Regions from separate parts of the Homo sapiens genome. Here all the other regions are linked to region 2. The links come from fine-mapping of genetic effects on gene expression. A gene starts in region 2. Each other region holds a variant in brackets. All regions are shown on one strand. Distances are between the middles of the regions. Region 1 overlaps LANCL2 (LanC like glutathione S-transferase 2). Region 2 holds the start of LANCL2 (LanC like glutathione S-transferase 2). Region 3 overlaps VOPP1 (VOPP1 WW domain binding protein). Region 4 overlaps VOPP1 (VOPP1 WW domain binding protein).

What was found.
Region 1: its variant is fine-mapped to the expression of LANCL2 in iPS cells (HipSci, PIP 0.95).
Region 3: its variant is fine-mapped to the expression of LANCL2 in lung (TOPMed, PIP above 0.99).
Region 4: its variant is fine-mapped to the expression of LANCL2 in aorta (GTEx, PIP 0.94).

Annotation. Positions count from the first base shown.
Region 1 is chr7:55,414,009-55,419,156 of GRCh38, reverse strand. The region is part of intron 6 of LANCL2 (LanC like glutathione S-transferase 2); the gene reads right to left. Among named protein-coding and RNA genes, the nearest start is that of LANCL2, 51 kb to the right of the region's middle. The variant T/G (reference allele first, on the strand shown) is at 2,868.
Region 2 is chr7:55,362,592-55,367,717 of GRCh38, reverse strand. LANCL2 (LanC like glutathione S-transferase 2) reads right to left here and starts at 2,381. Exons shown (of 9, transcript NM_018697.4): 1 at 1,489-2,381. The coding sequence starts at 1,692. RefSeq lists enhancers at 917-1,156, 1,187-1,646, 2,267-2,456 and a silencer at 1,777-2,196.
Region 3 is chr7:55,476,398-55,481,545 of GRCh38, reverse strand. The region is part of intron 4 of VOPP1 (VOPP1 WW domain binding protein); the gene reads left to right. Among named protein-coding and RNA genes, the nearest start is that of VOPP1, 94 kb to the left of the region's middle. RefSeq lists an enhancer at 3,088-3,638. The variant T/C (reference allele first, on the strand shown) is at 2,788.
Region 4 is chr7:55,470,080-55,475,213 of GRCh38, reverse strand. It overlaps VOPP1 (VOPP1 WW domain binding protein), which reads left to right. Exons shown (of 5, transcript NM_030796.5): 5 at 2,169-4,601. The coding sequence ends at 2,359. Among named protein-coding and RNA genes, the nearest start is that of VOPP1, 100 kb to the left of the region's middle. RefSeq lists an enhancer at 1,575-2,241. The variant C/T (reference allele first, on the strand shown) is at 2,200.

The sequences.
Region 1 (5,148 bases), 51 kb before region 2:
AAGAGAAAACACTTTCCAACTCATGTACGTGACCAGCATAATCCTGATACCTGATTCCTAATAAAAACAAAGATTTTATAGAAAAAGAAAATATGTACTAAGAAACATAAAAATCTTTAACAAAATATTAGCAGACCAAATGTAGCAATATTAATAAAAAGAAAAGGATAAAAATCATGCCCAAGTGAGGTTTATACTAGGAATGCAAGGTTGACTCAACTTTTAAAAACCAATCAATGTAAAATCACCATATTAATAAAACAAAAGAGGAAAACCATAGGAGCGTTTGAATAAATCCAGGAAAAAAAAATGACAAAATTCAACATCCCTTCATGATAACCAGTAATAAAAGGAAACTTCTTCAATCTGATAAAAGCCATCTAAGAAAAACAGTTAAAAGTATATTTGATGGGGAAATATTTAATATTTTTTTCTATGATTGTGAATAAAGCAAAGATGTCCACTCTGACCACTTCTATTCAATATTATACTATAGCTCCTAACCAATGTAATAAAAGAGGTAAAGGAAATAAAAGGCACAGAGGTTGGAAAGGAAGAAGAAAACTCACAGATACAATATGTGTACACAGAAAATCCTAAGTAATGTATAAAAAGCTACCAGAACTGATACGTGAATTTAGCACAGAATATAAAGTCAATATACAAAAAGCAGCTGTGGCCAGTTACAGTGGCTCAAGCCTGTAATCCCAGCACTTTGGGAGGCCGAGGTGGGTAGAACCCTTGAACTTGGGAGTTTGAGACCAGCCTGGTCAATATGGCGAAACCCCATCTCTACAAAAAAATACAAAAATTAGCCAGGCATGGTGGTGCACACCTGTAATCCCAGCTACTCAGCTAAGTCAGGAGGATATCTTGAGCCTGGGGAGGTAGAGGCTGCAGTGAGCCGTGATCACACCACTGCACTTCAGCCTGGGTAACAGAGTGAGACTCTATGTCTCCAAAAAAAAAAACGCAATTGTATTTCTATATACTGGCAATACATAATTGGAAAATGTAAATAAATAACATATCTAGGAATAAATTTAACAGAAGATGTGTTAAGACCTGTAGAGCAAAAACTATAAAGCACTATTGACAGAAATTAAAGAAAATATAAATGGAGAGATATACCACATTTGCGAGCAGAAGGACTCAACATTATTAAGATGTCAGTTCTGGCCAGGCACAGTGGCTCATGCCTGTAATCCTAGCACTTTGGGAGGCCAAGGCGGGCAGATCACTTGAGCTCAGGAGTTTGAGACCAGCCTGGCGAACATGGTGAAACCCCCGTCTCTACTAAAAATACAAAAACTAGCCGGGTATGGTGGTGGGCACCTGTAATCCCAGCTACTCAGGAGGCTGAGGCAGGAGAATTGCTTGAACCTGGGAGGCGGAGGTTGCAGTGAGCCAAGATCACACCTACTCCAGCCTGGGCGACCAAGCAAGACTCCATCTCAAAAAAAAAGATGTCAGTTAGTTCTACCCAAGTGGATCTAGAGATTCAATGATTCAATGCACTCTGACTCATAACTCCAATAGGCTCCATTTTTAGAAGCTGACAAATGGACTCTAAAACTTATATGAAAATACAAAGGACTTGGAATATTCAAAGTGATTCTGAAAAAGAACAAAGTGAGGTCTTAAGTTACCTGATCTCAAAACTTACAATAAATGCAGAATAAGAAAAACAACGTGGTAATATCATGTAGGTAAACAGGCCAAAGTAACTGAATAGAGTCCAGAAACAGACCCAGGCTTATTAGGTCATTTGATTTTTGATAGAGGAACCAAAATCAATCAAATGGGAAAAATAAATGTCTTTTCCACAAAAGGTATGGGAACAATCAGATATCCCTATGGTTAAAAAAAAACACCTCAGGCTGGGCACGGTGGCTCACGCCTGTAATCCCAGCACTTTGGGAGGCCGAGGCGGGCAGATCATGAGGTTAGGAGATAGAGACCATCCCGGCTAACACGGTGAAACCCCATCTCTACTAAAAATACAAAAAATTAGCCAGGCGTGGTGACGGGCGCCTGTAGTCCCAGCTACTCGGGAGGCTGAAGCAGGACAATGGTGTGAACCTGGGAGGCGGAGCTTGTAGTGAGCAGAGATCGTGCCACTGCACTCCAGCCTGGGCGACAGAGTGAGACTCTGTCTCCAAAAAAAAAAAAAAAAAAAAAAAAAAACCACCTCGTTTGTTACCTCATGTAATATACAAAACTTAATTTGAGATAAATCACAGGCCTAAAGGTAAAATCTAAAACAATAAAGATTAAAGGAGAGTATTATCTATATAACCTGAGGGTAGATAAGGTTTCTTAGACAAAACACAGACAGTAATTATCATAAAAAGAAAACATTGAAAAATAGATTTTATCAAAATTTAAAACTCTATTAGTCAAAAGATACCATAAAGAATATGATTAGGCAAACTACAGACAGGGAGAAATTATTTGTACGATATATATCTGACAGAGGGACTTTAACCAGAACATATAAAGAATTCTTTCAAAAATAGCAAAAAGACAAAAATAAAATAAAATAAAACAATGTAGGTAAAACACACGAAGAGACAGGCTGGGCACAGTGGCTCACACCTATAATTCCAGCACTTTGGGAGACCAAGACAGGAAGATTGCTTGAGTCCACGAGTTCGAAACCAGCCTGGGCAAAAAACAAGACCCCTACAAAAATAAAAAGATTTAGCCAGGTGTGGTGGCACGTGCCTGTAGTCCCCAGCTACTTGGAAGGTTGAAGTGGGAGGATCACCTGAGCCCTGAAGGTCGAGGCTACAGTGAGCCAAGATCCACCACTGCACTCCAGCCTGGGTGACAGTGCAAGACCCTGTCTCAAAAAATAATAATAA[T/G]AAGAAGAAGATATGAAGAGACAGTCAACAAAGGAAGATACACAATTGGCCCATGAGCACATGCAACATTAATCAACCCTGGTCAATCAGGAAGATACAAATAAAACCACAATGAAATACCCACCAAAATAATTAAAATTAAAAAGACTTTCAACATCAAGTGTTGGCAGATGCAGAACAACCAGAACTTGTGGAAAAAGTGGCAATTTCTAAAACTAAACATACACCTACCCTCCGATCCAGTAATTCTACTCCTAGATATTAACCCAAAAGAAATGAAGACATGTGTCTCTAGACAGACCTGTGCAAGAATGTTCATAGCAGCTTGTTCCTAATAGCCAAAACCTGGAAACCGATGAAAAACAATGATAAACTGGCCGGACACAGTGGCTCATGCCCGTAATCCCAGCAGTTTTGGAGGCCAAGGCAGGCAGATCACCTAAGGTCAGGAGTTCAAGACTAGCCTGGGCAACATGGTGAAACCCCGTCTCTACTAAAAATACAAAAAATTAGCCAGGCATGGTGACGTGTGCCTGTAATCCCAGCTACTTGGGAGGCTAACACACAAGAACCACCTGAACCCAGGAGGCAAAGGTTGTAGTGAGCCAAAACTGCGCCACTGCACACTCCAGCCTGGGAGACAGAGCGACACTGTGTCTCAAAAAAAAGAAAGAAAAACAATGATAAACTATGGTACATTTATTTAAGTGATGCTTAAAATTAAGAAGGTATCAGAATCTTGAGTAAGGAGGAAAAAAAGTATAGCTTAAAAAAACTTTTCAAGTAATTCTGATACCCCTAGAAAAACATTCCATGTTTCAAATAATCAACTTGCAAACAAGCTTCGGGAACAGAATTTGTATGAAAGCATTTTCTGACATATATACAATAGTTGGCCACCAGGGGGCACTCCCAATGCAGTTCTCTCTGGGGCTTCCCAGGGCAGGCGTGTGGGCACAAGCAGTGATGCTGTGGCTGCTGCCAGATTCAGTTCAGCATCTAAGGACTGCACTCGTGTCACCCTGGTGGGGGTATTATATGCTTTTTTTGGACATTGCATTTACCTTTCCAAATACAATCTCATTTAACAAATGTATTTGTTTACAGTGGCTAAACCCACACAAATTCCTAATGCCCTAGAACTCAAAACGTGAATAGAAGGAAGAATTTGCCACCATTACCCATGATTTTTTGTCAGATGTAATTTGTTAGAAAATCATTCACAATTAATAAAATTCCTAATACAATGTAGAATATTGTTAAAACCTTGCCTTTTTCTTTTCTTTTCTTTTTTTTTTTTTTTTTTGAGGTAGGGTCTTGCTGTGTCACCCAGGCTGGAGTGCAGTGGCATGATCATAGCTCACTGCAACCTCCGCCTCCCAGGCTCAAACCATCCTTCCACCTCAGCCTCCTAGGTACCTGGGACTACAGGTGCGTGCCACCACACCCAGATAATTTTTGTATTTTTTTTTAGTAGAGACATGGTTTTGCCATGTTGCCCAGGCTGATCTCCAACTCCTGGGCTCAAGCAACCCTCCTGCCTTGGCCTCCCAAAGTGCTGGGATTACAGGTGTGAGCCACAGTGTCTGGCCAAACCTTTACATTTTAAGGCCATCTAAAATACCACATAACTTTAAATTAACAAGTAATACACGTTCCTACACAGAAGAGTATATACCCTACTAAATACTAACACATGATGAGCATCTACAGGGAGGGAAAATAAATTTTGTGAGTCTGGACTGAACTTACAGTTTTCTTTGTAAAGGATAATTAATAATATTTTTTCAAGTACTTGAACACTTTACACCTTCATAAGCATGCCTGAACAACTTAGGACTTCATATGCCAGGAGAAGAAAATGTTAGAGCTTGTTATTACATAAAACTTGAACATTTCCTACCTAATTTTAAGAGACAGCTTTAATAAATGGAGGCCCTCTCAACTTAACTGTAACTTGAGAGAAAACAGTGTAGAGCTGTACTTCCCTAGTTTTGCCTCCCCCACTGAACCCCCTGCCTTGGTCAAACACAAACCTCGCCCTCTGCTCAGAGACGCAAACAGATGTGCAGACTCCACGGCGCAGGGTCTGTTTCTCCGCTGGCAGAGAGCTTTAGTCTACACTTATTTTCTGTAGTTTATACTATGAAGAAGATGTATTTTTACCCCCAATTCTAAGACCATATTACATATGCTTTTTCCTTTTTAAATTTTTCATTGATATATAATAATTGTACATATTTATGGGTGCATGTGATATACATGCATACAATGTGTAATG
Region 2 (5,126 bases):
CGTCTAGCTCTGTCGCCCAGGCTGGAGTGCAATGGCGCAATCTCCACTCACTGCAACCTCGACCTCCGAGGCTCAAGCGATTCTCATACCTCGGCCTCCTGAGTAGCTGAACAGGCGTCCACCACCACGCTCGGCTAATTTTTGTATTTTTCTTTTGTAGAGACGGTGTTTTGCCATGTTGGCCAGGCTGGTCTCGAACTGCTGGGCTCAAGCAATCAGCCCGCTTCGGCCTCCCAAAGTGCTGGGATTACTGGCGTGAGCCACCGCGCCCGGCCTGTTTCGAGTTTTTAACCACATTCAAGAAGAGAGAGGTTTACAGAAGTCACTTGCCTTAGATTCCATATTCAGACCAATGGCTCTTTCAAAATTACCTTCTTAGTTTTAGCCAAATATGAAATACATGGAGATCCAAGGAGGTGAAGTGGCCATTGGAACACGTACCTCAGTGGAAAAAGAAAACCTGGTAAAGGTACGGTTTTACCAAGCATGAAAACAGTTGTGCTGATATTCAATCTTCTGTTTTATTCCCACTTTTTGCCTCCCACGTTAGATTCTGTTCAGATAGCCCGTGAAGGGTGACAGGGTATGCCATCCCAAAAATATGTCTCTGGCATAAGGATTATTTTAAGCTAAAAGCACTTGAAAAACAGAAGAGTGCTCTAAACTGCCCCCTTTTCTTCATGAAACAAGAGAAAACTCCTGTAAAACATGGCCTCCCTACACCAGGAACAAAGAAACACTCGGCACCAGAGCCGAGCAAGGCGGAGATTTCTACCTAGACGTGGTTCAAGCAGTTCCATCTTCCATTAGCCTCCCCGCACACTTTACTCTCCCACAGCTGCCGCTCTTGGTTCTGCCTAGCACAAAAGTATTTGGGTTTTGCCATTTCTTTGTGTCTTTTTCACGTAAAACATATTCAAGAGATGTATGTTTTTCTGTTGTTAATCTGTTTTATGTCAATGTAACGCTCTGACCCACCTCGCGACACTAAGAAAGTCAAGTTTGGCCTCCCCTTACACCCGCTTCCCATTTCTGGGCACACAGACAGTACGGACAATGCTTCTTTGTCGGCGAGAGCCCAGGGACCAGATATGGCCAAGGAAATCCAGCCTCCAGGCCACTTCTGAGGAGCAGGTAGCCGGCGGAGCGCTCCGCCGCGCAGGGGCGGGAGGTGTCCGCGGGCCTCACGAGTGCACAAGCCCGCATTGCGAAGCGCCGCTCGGGCCAAGAAGGAAAGCGCACTGTCCGCGTATTTCAAAGGCGCGTTGGGGCCAGGAGGGCCGAACTGCTGGAACGTGGTTCATGCAGCTGAAGCCCACGGACCCTAAGCGCGGCTCATCGGGAAGGCCCGGAGACAGGTGCTAGGCGCTATCATCCCGCGCCCTCCCAAGCCCGGCGCGCGCCTGTGACGTCACGCCTGGCGGAAGGTGGACGCTACCACCGCCGCGCTCCCCCTCCGGCGCCTCTGCGGCCAGGCCGCCGACTCACCTTCCCGTCCTGATGAAAAGGGAGGCCGGGCTCATCCGTGGTCGCCGGGGGACGAACACAGCCTGTCTCTTCGGCCGCTCCGGAGGCGAGCAGCGCCCCGGCGGCGGCCTCGTAGTCCGGGAAGGGGTTGACGAACGCCCGTTCCTCCATTTCTGCCTCCCCTCCCAGGTGGAGCTTCAGCCTCTTTGACATGGTCTCGCCCATCTCCGCCGCGGTACGGCGCGCGGGCGGGGACAAACCTCCTGTCCCGGCGCTGCAGCTCGCCCCGCCGCCGCCTCCTCCGAGGGCCCGCGCAGAGAGCGTCCTCTAGGAGGAGCGAGGCCGCGCGCTGGCGGGAGGAGCGGGGCGTCTGAGCGTGCACTGCCTCGTCGCGGGCTGCTCGCACATCAGGCGGCCGCAGAGGCGGTGGGCGCTGTGCCTCTGCCCTGTTCCTGGCGCCTTTGCCCTGCTCCCGACGGAGAGGAGCGGGCTCGCGGGAGCGCCCAGCGGCTCACAGCCTGCTCGCGCCTCCTCGCACCTTCCCCGTGGCCCGCAGAGCCCGTCCGCGGCGACGCGCACGGCCGGGGCTGGAGTCCCGGGGTGGGGATCGCTGCGCCCGGCCAGCCCCCTCCGCGATTTCCAAAGAAAACCGAACGCCCGCTAGGGCCACGCTCCCGCGGGGAAAACCTGTAGAGAAGAGGTCGCTGTCACTCAAGGTGTGTGCGCGTCGCCGACCGGGGCGAGCTCAGCCCCTGGCGCGCCGTCGTCAGCCTGCATTTCACCGGCCCCTGCTGCGCCAGCCCAAAGGAATAGCAGCAGTTCTTTGTTTGATATTAAGAAGAAAAAAAAAATCTCTTCTAAAGAACAGAATTTCAAAACAGTCTAAAACACTGCAAGGCTAGTCTCCGAGGGATGGGGGAGGGAGACAGTCCCTCCTATTCATCACTGTTGGAGGGGGGTGTCTGGGAGGAGGAGCCACAGGCCTTTTTTTTTTTCTTTTTATGTTTTATGTTCACTCCCTTTGTTTTGAATAAATGGACATCTTTGATACCGGGACATAAAATGAAAGCATACTTAATTATCCAAACATTTTATCGACCAGAAAGAGTCCTCCAGTGTTAATTGGCAAAGATCATAGTATGTATTATAAAAAGGACACAAGCAACCAGATCTTTACATTTATGTAATCGTGATGTGGTTTACTTCAGTCTTCATTGGTTCTCTTTATTTTTATTTGTTTGGACCAAATACGTGTAATGATTTCTGCTCCTTGAGGAAAATGTCTTATTTCCGTTTTCTTCCGCTCAGTAAACGTTGATTGAGCACCAAATGGTACTAGGTGATGAAGAAATAAGAGATTAAAAAGATAGTTTTGGCTCTCTGGGGATTCCCAGTTATTGGGTGAGAAAAGCAAGGATTACAGCATAGCTGATGTAGGTGCTTTTCTGGAAGCAAGCAAAAATACACGTTAATGTAAAAAGTGACATGATGAAGAAAAACACAGTGCCGAGCACAGGGAAGGCTCGGTTCCTCCTGCCTCCGTGGCCTCGGTGGAATGATGTGGGAAAGTCTGGCTTCCCACTACCTCTTCTAGTGTCCCCCCAACCCCACAGGGCTGGACATGTGAAACACACCCCACCAAGAACATGACCATGGGAAGGTACAGTGTAGAAGAAAATCATTTTAAAGGGGGTACTCAGCATAACTATCTTCAAAGTTCAGGGAAACAGAACAGATACAACAGGATGAGTGTTATAGCAGCATCCCTTAGCTCCACTTTCCTGCTTTCCCCTTTCCTGGGGTCTTTTCTCCCACCAAATTTTCATACCTAGACGGTGTAGGAAAATCCACTCCAGGAACTACTGATGCCGACATGCTCTAGGAGCCATCCTTATCCCACCACAGGGACTTAACTAGACAAAATAACCCACGGTGATATTCCCCAAAGTCTGGGGAACTATCACGCCTTGGACAGGTACAGCAGAAACGTCCACTGCGGGCTTTGTTAGGCTAAGCCTAGTGAATTCTCAGCTCTCCCTACCCAGGAGGGAGGTGAAGATTGTCTCTTCTTCCTGCAGTCTGCTGGTGGATAACTGGCAACTGTTGGCAAGTACAGAAACCTGTCCTAAAGAAAACCAATATTTTCAAAAGCTGAAAAATCGAAACCCAATTTAAGGAGTCGGCATATTTTCCTAAATGCTCTCTTATCGGCAGATCCCCTGCCCTCCTGGACAGCTCACTGACACTATTTTATGGAGAAGTGGTAGGTTCCCTTTCTTCAGCCTCCTGTCCCCTGGGGGTTTTTTAATGCAGAGCACAGGGGATTCCCTTCTGCGGCCCTTTTACACCCAGGGCTATCTTCCCCCGTGGCCACTCTTGAGCTCTTGAGTAGTACAGAGACCTTGGTCAGTGCCTTGAAATTACAACTTTATTTTCCTTAGGACAAGCCAAATTCTTAGGACACCCTCCCCACTCTTCTGTGTAAGAGAAGGGCAAGAGGACATACATGCCGGCCCAAAGCACACCCAAGGAGTCGTGAGGGCCCCTGGCAACTGACCTTTCAAAGGAAGACATAGTCCAAGGACACGATGTGCGAGAGGGCGGCATTGTGGCACCACGTTGAGATCTGGGGGGGCACTGGGCGGAGCAGCACCTGGGGAAGCCGCCGGGTGCGGTGCTTGGGTCACGGCCCTCCGGGGAGGCCACCGGGTGCGGTGCGGGGCAGGGCCCTACGGGGTGGCCGGCGGGTGCAGAAGTTGCTACCAGGGGAGGGTGTGCTCATCCTTGAAGATCTGAGTCAAAATAGGCAGTGTCATCCTCTTCCATTCCCCAGCACCTAACGTGGCTGCCCCAAAAGCCGCTGAGCTTGAGCTCCCTTCTAAAGCCAAAGCAGGCAGCAAGGCGGAGAGGAACCCCGGAGGTGGGAGGTCACTGGGGGGCGGGGAGGGTGGTTTCGGGGCACAGGGCAGCGGTGACTGCCCGCAGGGGCAAGCCCGGGCTCCCCGCCTGCGGCGGCTCCCCACCAAGTGGGGCCTGAGACAGGAGGAGCTGAGGTGGGGGCGCCTCCCTGAGAAACGCCACTTCTTATCTGGAGCGCCCCAAAGGTGAGAGGAAGACGATGGAAAACCTGGGGCACGAGGGCTCTCACTGTGGGGTTCAGCCATCGCCGAGCCCTGAGGCCCCGCAGACAGCCCCGGCTCTCCTCTTTACCCCAGAGTCAGGTACCAGCCTCTGGCCCGGGAACCAAGCCTCAGGTGCTTGCAGGGCTAGAATGTGTGGTTCTGAGAACTGCGTGGTGCTGGGTCAGAACCACGTGGGGCCTGTATTATGTATTTCAAAACTTCACGCTTCCCTGCAGCCTCAACACGGAAAACAGGCAGTGAGCCCCCCTCTCCCCCACCCCGCCCAGGTGACCAGATGCCCCAGTGTGGTGAGCTGGCCCTGCCACAGTTCCCCTTCCTGCCCTCCCGGACTGTGACCTAGTGACAGAGATTCTTTGTTCTACCAAACTAGTCAGGTTCCTGAATCTCCTCCAAGGCCCATCTGCACACTTCCTTATAAAATCCAGTTTTAGCAAACAGCCTTGCTAAGTCACTTTAGGAAGAACCACCCCCTAATATGTGATCACCCCCATTATTTGACCAGGTTCCCTATCCCTC
Region 3 (5,148 bases), 110 kb before region 2:
CAGGCCCCACCTCTGTTCTTCCAGGGCTCCAGCCAGGAGCCTTGAGGCCAGTTGGCCTTTTCTCTCGACACCACCCTGGCTGCTACCACCCTTTATTCAGACTCTGATGAGAGCCTCCCTGGTGGTTCTCTTGCTGCCTCTTGCTTCCAGCAAGGCAGCCAGAGTCACAGCAGGAGCCAGGGCTTGTGCTCCCAACACTCTCATGGGCCCACTGTGCCACAGAAGCACTTTGAGAGGCCAAGGAGGCCCTCTCTTCTCTCAGCACCCCTCCTGGCTGCCCAGCGGGCTCTGGCCTCTCCTGTGGCCCCTCCTGGCTCACTCCCCTGCTGCCACTCACTGGCCTGTGACTTGTCCTGAGACCCTCCAGACAGCCATTCCTCTGCCTAAAAGTCTCTTTCTCCATGGACACGCCCAGGTACACGGCACGCTCCTCCAGTACCTGCTGCCTGCCCCTTCTGCCCAACAGTTCCATTTCCTTGAGGTCCTTCACCTCCTCATGAGGCCTGCAGACACAAGGAAGAATGGCACTGCCCTTCCCCCTCCCCTGTTGGCTTTTCATTTTTCAATTTTCCTGCTTTATTTTCATCTTTAGCACTTATCACCAACTAACCTATTTTTCTTACCTTGCTCATTGTCTCTCTAAACTGCAAGTAACGTGAGAACTGAGATTTTCAGTTTTTGTCATTGTTACATCCTCAGTGCCCAGAACAGTGCTGGCACTCAGTGAGAATTCAGTCTTTGTTGAACACACAAATGGACATAGGCATCAGTGAAAGGAATGCAACAGCATATGCAGTACATGTTCAGCCAATTTTTAGAGGTATTAATAGATTCATAGCTTTATTCTGTTAAAAGTTTATGAAAAAGCAAATGAACTGAGCTCTCCTCAAAAGAGGCTCAGAAATTAATAAAGTCACAGAAATATATAAAGAGTGGGTAAAATTAAGCCTGGGAAGTAGAGATGGGAGAAATTATAAATGAAATACAAATTAATTGTAAAAATCAGAAAAATATAATTATAAATCTAAGTTAGCAGTTGATAAAAAGCAATAGAGCAAATCACATTGCTTGTTCCCCTCCTGATAAATCTAATCAATAAAGGAGAAGAACACAAAAATAAAAGCATAAATTAAAACACTACAGATTCAAAGGAGTTGAAAATCACAAGGAAGTATTCATGAATTGGAAAATCTGGTAAGATGGCAAAGTGCGTAAGTACTTTATGATACCAAAGTGCGTAAAGACATTGAAAATTTCAATAACTCAAAAAGCAAGCAAGAGCTTGAAGACATTTTCAAAGAATTATCTCCCAGAATGTCTTTAAGTTCATATGGCTTTTTTGAAACTTTTAAGAAACAATTCATTTTAATGAATGTATCAATTACTGCAAATCATAGGAATGCTACGTATTCATGTTGTAAAGTTAGTATAACTTGGGAATAAACACCAAAATAAAATTATATCGAATCATATTTAGGAAACTGAATTAAGCAATGTGTCAAAATAGTAAACCATCATAACCAACCATGATCTTCTTAACAAAAGATCGTTTTATTTTAGGCACGCAATTAACATTGTAAGTTATATCAGAAAGCAATGATTGTCTCAGTAGGTGCTGAAGAGGCTGTCAGCACAATTTGATATATATTCCTTATCAAAACTCTCTCAAAACTAGCCATGTAAGGCCTTTTATTAATGTAATAAAGACCTCATGTAAATTCCTGGGTTCCAGGCTCAAGCCTTCCACTGTGTGCTCCATGTTACCAGCTATGCCTTTTGAACGGGAGATGTTGCATAAATAATTGTTGAGTATGCACTTTAGATTCTTTGCTAACATCACATTTGGTGAAACTATAAAATAATTCCCATGAAAATTGGATTGCTTAATATCATAACTGATATTTAATAATATTTAATATTGCTCTAAAATTTCTGGCTAAAATGAAAATATTCAACCATCAGGAAGGAGAAACAAAACTATTACTGTTTGTAAACAGTTTATCATCAGTACTTACCTAAAAATCCTGGAGAATGAGCTCAGAAATATTTCTAAGAGTTGAGACAGTTTAGCAAAATGAACAGATACAACCTCAAACCAAACCAAACTAGAAAGCTCAGAGGACACAGAAATGCCAGTACTGAGCTGGCAACACCTCTGTTGTTTGTGAAAATGTTCTCTGGAACACATGGACACAGGAAGGGGAACATCACATTCTGGGGACTGTTGTGGGGTGGGGGGATGGGGGAGGGATAGCGTTAGGAGATATACCTAACGCTAAATGACGAGTTAATGGGTGCAGCACACCAGCATGGCACACGTATACATATGTAACTAACCTGCACATTGTGCACATGTACCCTAAAACTTAAAGTATAATAATAAAAAAAAAAAAAAGAAAATGTTCTCTGGAAGAGGTAGTTCAAGGCTTTTGGCTACAAGTAACACATACCTCAATTCAGCCAGCTTCAAAAATAAGAAAGAATTGTCTCTTACGATAGAAAGTCACATAGAGGAAGGGCCATGGTTTAACTGCATGGCTCAGCAGCATCCTCGGGCCGGGCTCCTTCCATGGGCCCCTGCTGCCCCCCTCAGCTCTTCCCCCTCCAACTCTCCTTCCTGGCTGAGAGAGGTCCGCCTGGGTCCTCACAGATGCAACAGTGTCCACTGGAAGGAGAGTCCCTTGAGCACATTGTGTAATTTATTTGGACTTCCGCTTTTGAATCTGTAAAATTGAAATAGTGTGTATCTCATAGCATTCCTCGGTGGCTAGAATGACAGGCTGTATG[T/C]GAGATACATGAATCTGTGAGGAAAATGCACTTAGCATGTCATGGGACCCTGAGGTCCTGGTTCTATTCCATGCTTCCTGCACTGAGAGGTACTTGGTTGGAGGCAGGCAATCTGAATGCTCTCCCCAACATCCGGTCAGTTCTCATTTATCTTGGTCTTTCATTTTCCCTCACCCATTTTTTTGTTTCTCCCTTTCAGTTTGCAAACCATTCTCCTTGGGAGAGAATACCATTTAAGGTAGTTTCTTTTGCTATTTGTTTTATTTCTTAATCTTCTTTATTCTCTGTGCACATGCAAAGCCCCCTTTTTTGGCTAGAGTCATTGCTTCAAGCTGCAGCTCCCTTGGGCTTTTTTTTCCTGACTTCATTCTGTATTTGCTCCTGGTAATAATCTCATTTTGTAATTTTGCTCTTTAGTCACAGGGCTTCATTTGGGACACTCACATTTTTGTTCTCTTTGTGATTATTTGTGATTAAGGAGTTGAGGTTATGACTTTAAGGTGCTTTTGATTCCAGAGCCATGTGCCATATAATCATCTGTGGTTTGTGGGAATGTCTTTGCCGTGATCTCTCTGAAGTCTGTGGGCACATTCCAGACCGTGCTGGTCTTCTGTCCGCAGGCTTCATGCAGAGAATGAAGTGTCCTTGCTTTCTCTTTCCTAAATGAGTCTCTGCCTCTGTGAGAACTGGGTCCACCTTCTCTCGGTTGCTCTTCTTTGTGGGAGCCTGAATGGTAAGCATGGCCAGCGTCCTGTGAGGAGTTGTAGCCAAATGAGCAGAAGCTGAGCAGCTGTCTGGGTGGGTGCGGCCTCTGCATGCTGCTTCCGCGGCCGCGCTGCCTCCACCTGGCCGGGGTCCCTCAGCTACTCACATGAGGCTCCAGCATCCGGCCCTGCTGCCCTTTAACCTCAACTGTAGCCTCTCCAGCGTGGTCACCAATTTTTTAACCTAAGGGTTCATGTTCTTGACAAGTACACAGTTTATTCATTTTCTATCCGTTCTCTTTTATATTCCAAATACCTCTCCATCTCCATGTTCAAATATTTCAATCCCGTCCCACCAGTTCCTGGTAGGATCCATCACTGTGTCTATGAACACGAAGATACCGATTAGACTGGATGCAGGTGCTGGTGTTTCTGGTTCTGCAGCGTGAGTGGCCACATTGCAAACATAGCCTGGCTGCCTCTCTTCTACAAAGACCACACTCCCGCCCCTCCCTCACCTGCAGCAGGGGGTTGGGATCCTCCCCTCGACAGGAGCCACGGCCTTGGCACAGGCTTGCTGAGTGGGGCAGCCAGTCACTCCTGTCATATCAGAAACAGGTGTGTCTCAGGAAACCCATGCACACCCAGCACAATCTGGCAGCGCCAAAGTCCAGATCCAAGTCGCCACTCGTCCCCCCTTCAGTCACTCCTCCCGTGTATTTATGGAACGTCTGCCACATGCAAGGTGCCGTTCTGGGCTCTCAGGGAACCAGGGTGAGTGATGCTCTGTCCTCGTGTTCAGAAGGCTCAGAAAATCATACCATACTAGGCAACTGCTGCATACTCATGGACGTGCCTTGTTCTGGGTACCAGAGGACAGGGGTGCCTGCTCAGCTGGGAAGGCAGTGACAGGCAGCAAGAGGGGGCTGCCTGGTGATTCTGAGCTGAGACTGAAAGATACATGGCAATTAGCCAGACCAGAGGCTAGGAGGTGCCTGGCATGAGGTGGTCACAGGCATTCCAGGAGACACGGTTTGCATGGTGAAAGCCTGGGATATGTTATCTAGTGAGGGCCCAGAGAGGGCAGACCGGATCCAGGCAGTGTGGTTACTGCTGGAGATGGAGAATAGGGCAGGCGGTGAGACACAAGGCTCTGAAGTGGGCAGGAGCCCATCATAGCAGGCCCTGTCCCTCTGGAGAGCCCACCGTCCCATGAGTGATTGGTGGGGAGGAATGTAGGGCCAAGCCTGCCACAGCTTGGGTGGCAGGAACGAGCTCTGCCCCTGGTGCCCTGTGTTGAGGCTCCTGCCCATGGCTGGAGGAGCAGCTGGGCCAGAGGGGACAGAGCAGGGAAGCCAGGGCATGGCTGGAGAGGAGGAGAGGTGAGACCAGAGACCCACGTGCCCTGAGTTTGGAGGGGCTGACTAAAATGGTGTGGGGATCCTGGTGTAACTGGAACGCTGTCAGGAGTCAGGCCCCTGGGCCCCTGGCCTCTGTCCCTCCTGGGCCACATACTCTGTCAGCTGCCTCTCCTTCTCCCTGCATTTCCACCCCTCCCTCTGCGGCCTGCCGGACTCTTTTGCATCCCCAGGAAAGATTGGCCCAGCCCCCCCGCCCACCCCCCCGACACGCCACTGGCCAGTCAGCTGGGCTAGAG
Region 4 (5,134 bases), 110 kb before region 2:
TGTGTTCTCCCCGAAAGTTCTCTCTGTCCTGTGTCTGTCCCTACCCCTGCCCATATGCGCAAGCGTTTCCATCCTTACAAAGGCACCTTCTCTTGCCCTGCGTGCCTTCCAGCTGCCACCCGTCCCCTCCTACAGTCTTCACCCACACCCTGGACTGTTTCTCCCTACTGCAGCAGGGACCTGTGTCTACCATGGTGTGAAACTGTAGAGAAAGAGCACGGGAACCCCAAGGCTACAGCCGTGCTTATTTCCATCTCTCTTCAGCTGGGGAGAGAACATCACTTCTTCCTGAAAATTCTCCCACCCCTTGCTGCCCTGGCTCCTGGTGCACCACCTCCTGCCGCATCTTCCCATTGCCTATGCATCCTTCTCATCAGCCTTAGACACTTCATGCTCCTCTCCTGGCCTCAGTGCTGCTCCTTCCTGCAGCCTTCTCCTGGACATGCCCATGTTTCCACCACCACCTTCCCACAGGAGGCTCCAGCTCCAGAGCTGCCTCCGCCCTCTCCAGTCCAGCAGGGACTTTTTCATCTGCCCCGCCCTTGTCCTGGTGCTGCTGTAGCAGTAGTGTGACCTTGGTAAGGCGCTAATTCTTGCAGAGCCCCTGTTCTCCTGTATTGCCCTGCCTGTTGGGGGGCCCTTATTGTGAGCAGAACCTAGGGCCTTTTCTTCTCAGCCCTTGTCTCCCACGCTGTGCGCTCCCCATCGAGTCAATCCCAGGCCAGTCATTGCCGACAGCCCTCAGTGCCTCATTCTCTCTTCTCCATTTTTTCTCTAATATTCAGAAGCCTTCATAATGTCTTGCTTAGACTGTTGCAATGCCCTCTTTTTAAAAATCCTTGGTTTTTTAATTGTATAACATATAGCAGGATCCAGATCTAAATAAAACATAATCTCTGCCCTTGCGAAACTCATGGTAATGGCAGTAAGTCGACTTCTAAATAGAACACACCCAAGGCAGCGGGTGAGATGCATCAGAGCAGCGCAGGTGGCATCTGTGGGACCACACGGCATCTCACTCAGGTGGTGTCTGTGGGACGGCACAGATGCAGGGCGAGGCAGCCTCTCACACAGGGTGGCATCTGTGCTGAGTGCCCTCCTGGCAGTTGAGAGCGCTCAGTGAGAGACAGTGCAGGCCTGGCCTGTGCTTCTGTTCTACATGCTCTCCTTCCGCACATGCGCAGATTCCCATGGTCTGACTTATGTGGGCTTTGGGACATCTTGTGTACCTTGATGGGCATGTTTCTAGAGTCAGAACTATATCACACTGTGTCAGGGGGAGAATTGCAAAAAAAGAAAAAAAACCCTACACAATATTCACACAGGGGCAGCTTCTTTGACACTTGAGTGTCTCCCTGAGCTAAAGGAAGCCTCACTTCAAAAACACCTGAGTCCTGTCACAAAATCAGCTATACCCAGGGAACACCCAGCACTTTCACGGTTTTGTCTGATTCTTTATTTACATATGCATAATTCTATAGTGTTAATCTGCATGATCACAGTAAGCACACTGAAAACAGCACCTCAGAGTGAGGGCTAGATTTGGGGTCGGGTGTCCAGCCTGTACCCTCCTGTCACCTTCTGTGGTGCCCCCGTGCCCTGCTCCTCAGCTTGTCACTAGGGAGTCAGCCTGCGGCTCCGCTCCTGACCCATGGAGCGTCAATCAGCTGCAGCCTGGCTATGTGTGCCCAGGTGCACGGCCTCCCTGCCTGTGAGTAACTCCTGCCCTGAGGGCACACTAGCCCGGCAGGGAGAATGGAGACCTTACTTCAGAAATGGTCACCAGCCAATGGCGTGCCCAGAGGGGTTGTGGAGCTCCTGCGATAATGCCAGGCTGAGTCGCGAAGCCTGGGTGGTCTTTGCAGCTCTTCCGATAGTTCACCGCAGACAGCCTCACCTTACTGTGGCCCAGTTTCCTCCACCCTAATGTGTGAACTGGTAACGTGGAATGTAGTCCAGTAGAATCAAAGCCCCGAGAGGGCAGGGACCTGCCTATTGTGTTGCTTGTCACCACAGCCCAGGTGCCCCCTCACCGGGCATGTTGGGTCCTTCATACACTGTCGCTGAGTGAATGACGGGGCGTGGTCTGCTGGCCCTGCAGCCTGCACATACTTGCGGTGTGATGGGGCTTTCCCTTCTGTGCTCACCTATGTTTGTCTGTCTTTCAGGAGCCCAGCAGCCGGGGCCGCCCTATTACAC[C/T]GACCCAGGAGGACCGGGGATGAACCCTGTCGGGAATTCCATGGCAATGGCTTTCCAGGTCCCACCCAACTCACCCCAGGGGAGTGTGGCCTGCCCGCCCCCTCCAGCCTACTGCAACACGCCTCCGCCCCCGTACGAACAGGTAGTGAAGGCCAAGTAGTGGGGTGCCCACGTGCAAGAGGAGAGACAGGAGAGGGCCTTTCCCTGGCCTTTCTGTCTTCGTTGATGTTCACTTCCAGGAACGGTCTCGTGGGCTGCTAAGGGCAGTTCCTCTGATATCCTCACAGCAAGCACAGCTCTCTTTCAGGCTTTCCATGGAGTACAATATATGAACTCACACTTTGTCTCCTCTGTTGCTTCTGTTTCTGACGCAGTCTGTGCTCTCACATGGTAGTGTGGTGACAGTCCCCGAGGGCTGACGTCCTTACGGTGGCGTGACCAGATCTACAGGAGAGAGACTGAGAGGAAGAAGGCAGTGCTGGAGGTGCAGGTGGCATGTAGAGGGGCCAGGCCGAGCATCCCAGGCAAGCATCCTTCTGCCCGGGTATTAATAGGAAGCCCCATGCCGGGCGGCTCAGCCGATGAAGCAGCAGCCGACTGAGCTGAGCCCAGCAGGTCATCTGCTCCAGCCTGTCCTCTCGTCAGCCTTCCTCTTCCAGAAGCTGTTGGAGAGACATTCAGGAGAGAGCAAGCCCCTTGTCATGTTTCTGTCTCTGTTCATATCCTAAAGATAGACTTCTCCTGCACCGCCAGGGAAGGGTAGCACGTGCAGCTCTCACCGCAGGATGGGGCCTAGAATCAGGCTTGCCTTGGAGGCCTGACAGTGATCTGACATCCACTAAGCAAATTTATTTAAATTCATGGGAAATCACTTCCTGCCCCAAACTGAGACATTGCATTTTGTGAGCTCTTGGTCTGATTTGGAGAAAGGACTGTTACCCATTTTTTTGGTGTGTTTATGGAAGTGCATGTAGAGCGTCCTGCCCTTTGAAATCAGACTGGGTGTGTGTCTTCCCTGGACATCACTGCCTCTCCAGGGCATTCTCAGGCCCGGGGGTCTCCTTCCCTCAGGCAGCTCCAGTGGTGGGTTCTGAAGGGTGCTTTCAAAACGGGGCACATCTGGCTGGGAAGTCACATGGACTCTTCCAGGGAGAGAGACCAGCTGAGGCGTCTCTCTCTGAGGTTGTGTTGGGTCTAAGCGGGTGTGTGCTGGGCTCCAAGGAGGAGGAGCTTGCTGGGAAAAGACAGGAGAAGTACTGACTCAACTGCACTGACCATGTTGTCATAATTAGAATAAAGAAGAAGTGGTCGGAAATGCACATTCCTGGATAGGAATCACAGCTCACCCCAGGATCTCACAGGTAGTCTCCTGAGTAGTTGACGGCTAGCGGGGAGCTAGTTCCGCCGCATAGTTATAGTGTTGATGTGTGAACGCTGACCTGTCCTGTGTGCTAAGAGCTATGCAGCTTAGCTGAGGCGCCTAGATTACTAGATGTGCTGTATCACGGGGAATGAGGTGGGGGTGCTTATTTTTTAATGAACTAATCAGAGCCTCTTGAGAAATTGTTACTCATTGAACTGGAGCATCAAGACATCTCATGGAAGTGGATACGGAGTGATTTGGTGTCCATGCTTTTCACTCTGAGGACATTTAATCGGAGAACCTCCTGGGGAATTTTGTGGGAGACACTTGGGAACAAAACAGACACCCTGGGAATGCAGTTGCAAGCACAGATGCTGCCACCAGTGTCTCTGACCACCCTGGTGTGACTGCTGACTGCCAGCGTGGTACCTCCCATGCTGCAGGCCTCCATCTAAATGAGACAACAAAGCACAATGTTCACTGTTTACAACCAAGACAACTGCGTGGGTCCAAACACTCCTCTTCCTCCAGGTCATTTGTTTTGCATTTTTAATGTCTTTATTTTTTGTAATGAAAAAGCACACTAAGCTGCCCCTGGAATCGGGTGCAGCTGAATAGGCACCCAAAAGTCCGTGACTAAATTTCGTTTGTCTTTTTGATAGCAAATTATGTTAAGAGACAGTGATGGCTAGGGCTCAACAATTTTGTATTCCCATGTTTGTGTGAGACAGAGTTTGTTTTCCCTTGAACTTGGTTAGAATTGTGCTACTGTGAACGCTGATCCTGCATATGGAAGTCCCACTTCGGTGACATTTCCTGGCCATTCTTGTTTCCATTGTGTGGATGGTGGGTTGTGCCCACTTCCTGGAGTGAGACAGCTCCTGGTGTGTAGAATTCCCGGAGCGTCCGTGGTTCAGAGTAAACTTGAAGCAGATCTGTGCATGCTTTTCCTCTGCAACAATTGGCTCGTTTCTCTTTTTTGTTCTCTTTTGATAGGATCCTGTTTCCTATGTGTGCAAAATAAAAATAAATTTGGGCATGTGCTTTGATTGTTTTGTTGGGGGAGTGGGAAAGAGGGTGGAGATGAAGTTTCTAATGAGGAAGGGTGTACAGCAGATCCTTGGTTCAGTGGGGTGAGGTGGGTGGAGGATGCACCTGGTCTCAGGGGAACCAGAAACTAGATGTTATTTGAGAATGTAAGATACAAGCTATGGAGACAATTGTCCCCAGTGGGTAGGAAGACAGAAGCATCGCTGAAGTAATGTACTGTTGATACTGTAAGTTAACCTTGAGCTAGGGCTGTTTTTCACAGGTCGGGGAGCCTTCATCTTAAAACACAGCTCTGCTTGGTCAGAAATAACACTTCTCTCACAGATGCTGCTGAAGGGTGTAGCTGCTACAGTTAAACTGCATTTTAATTATTTATTTTTTATTTTATTTTGTGTTTTAGAGATGGGGTCTCACTGCGTTTCCCAGGCTGGTCTCAAACCATTGGCCTCAAGCAATTCTCCTACCCCAGCCTCTCAAGATGTATTTTAGATGTATCACTAATTGACATAATGTTTGCAAAGA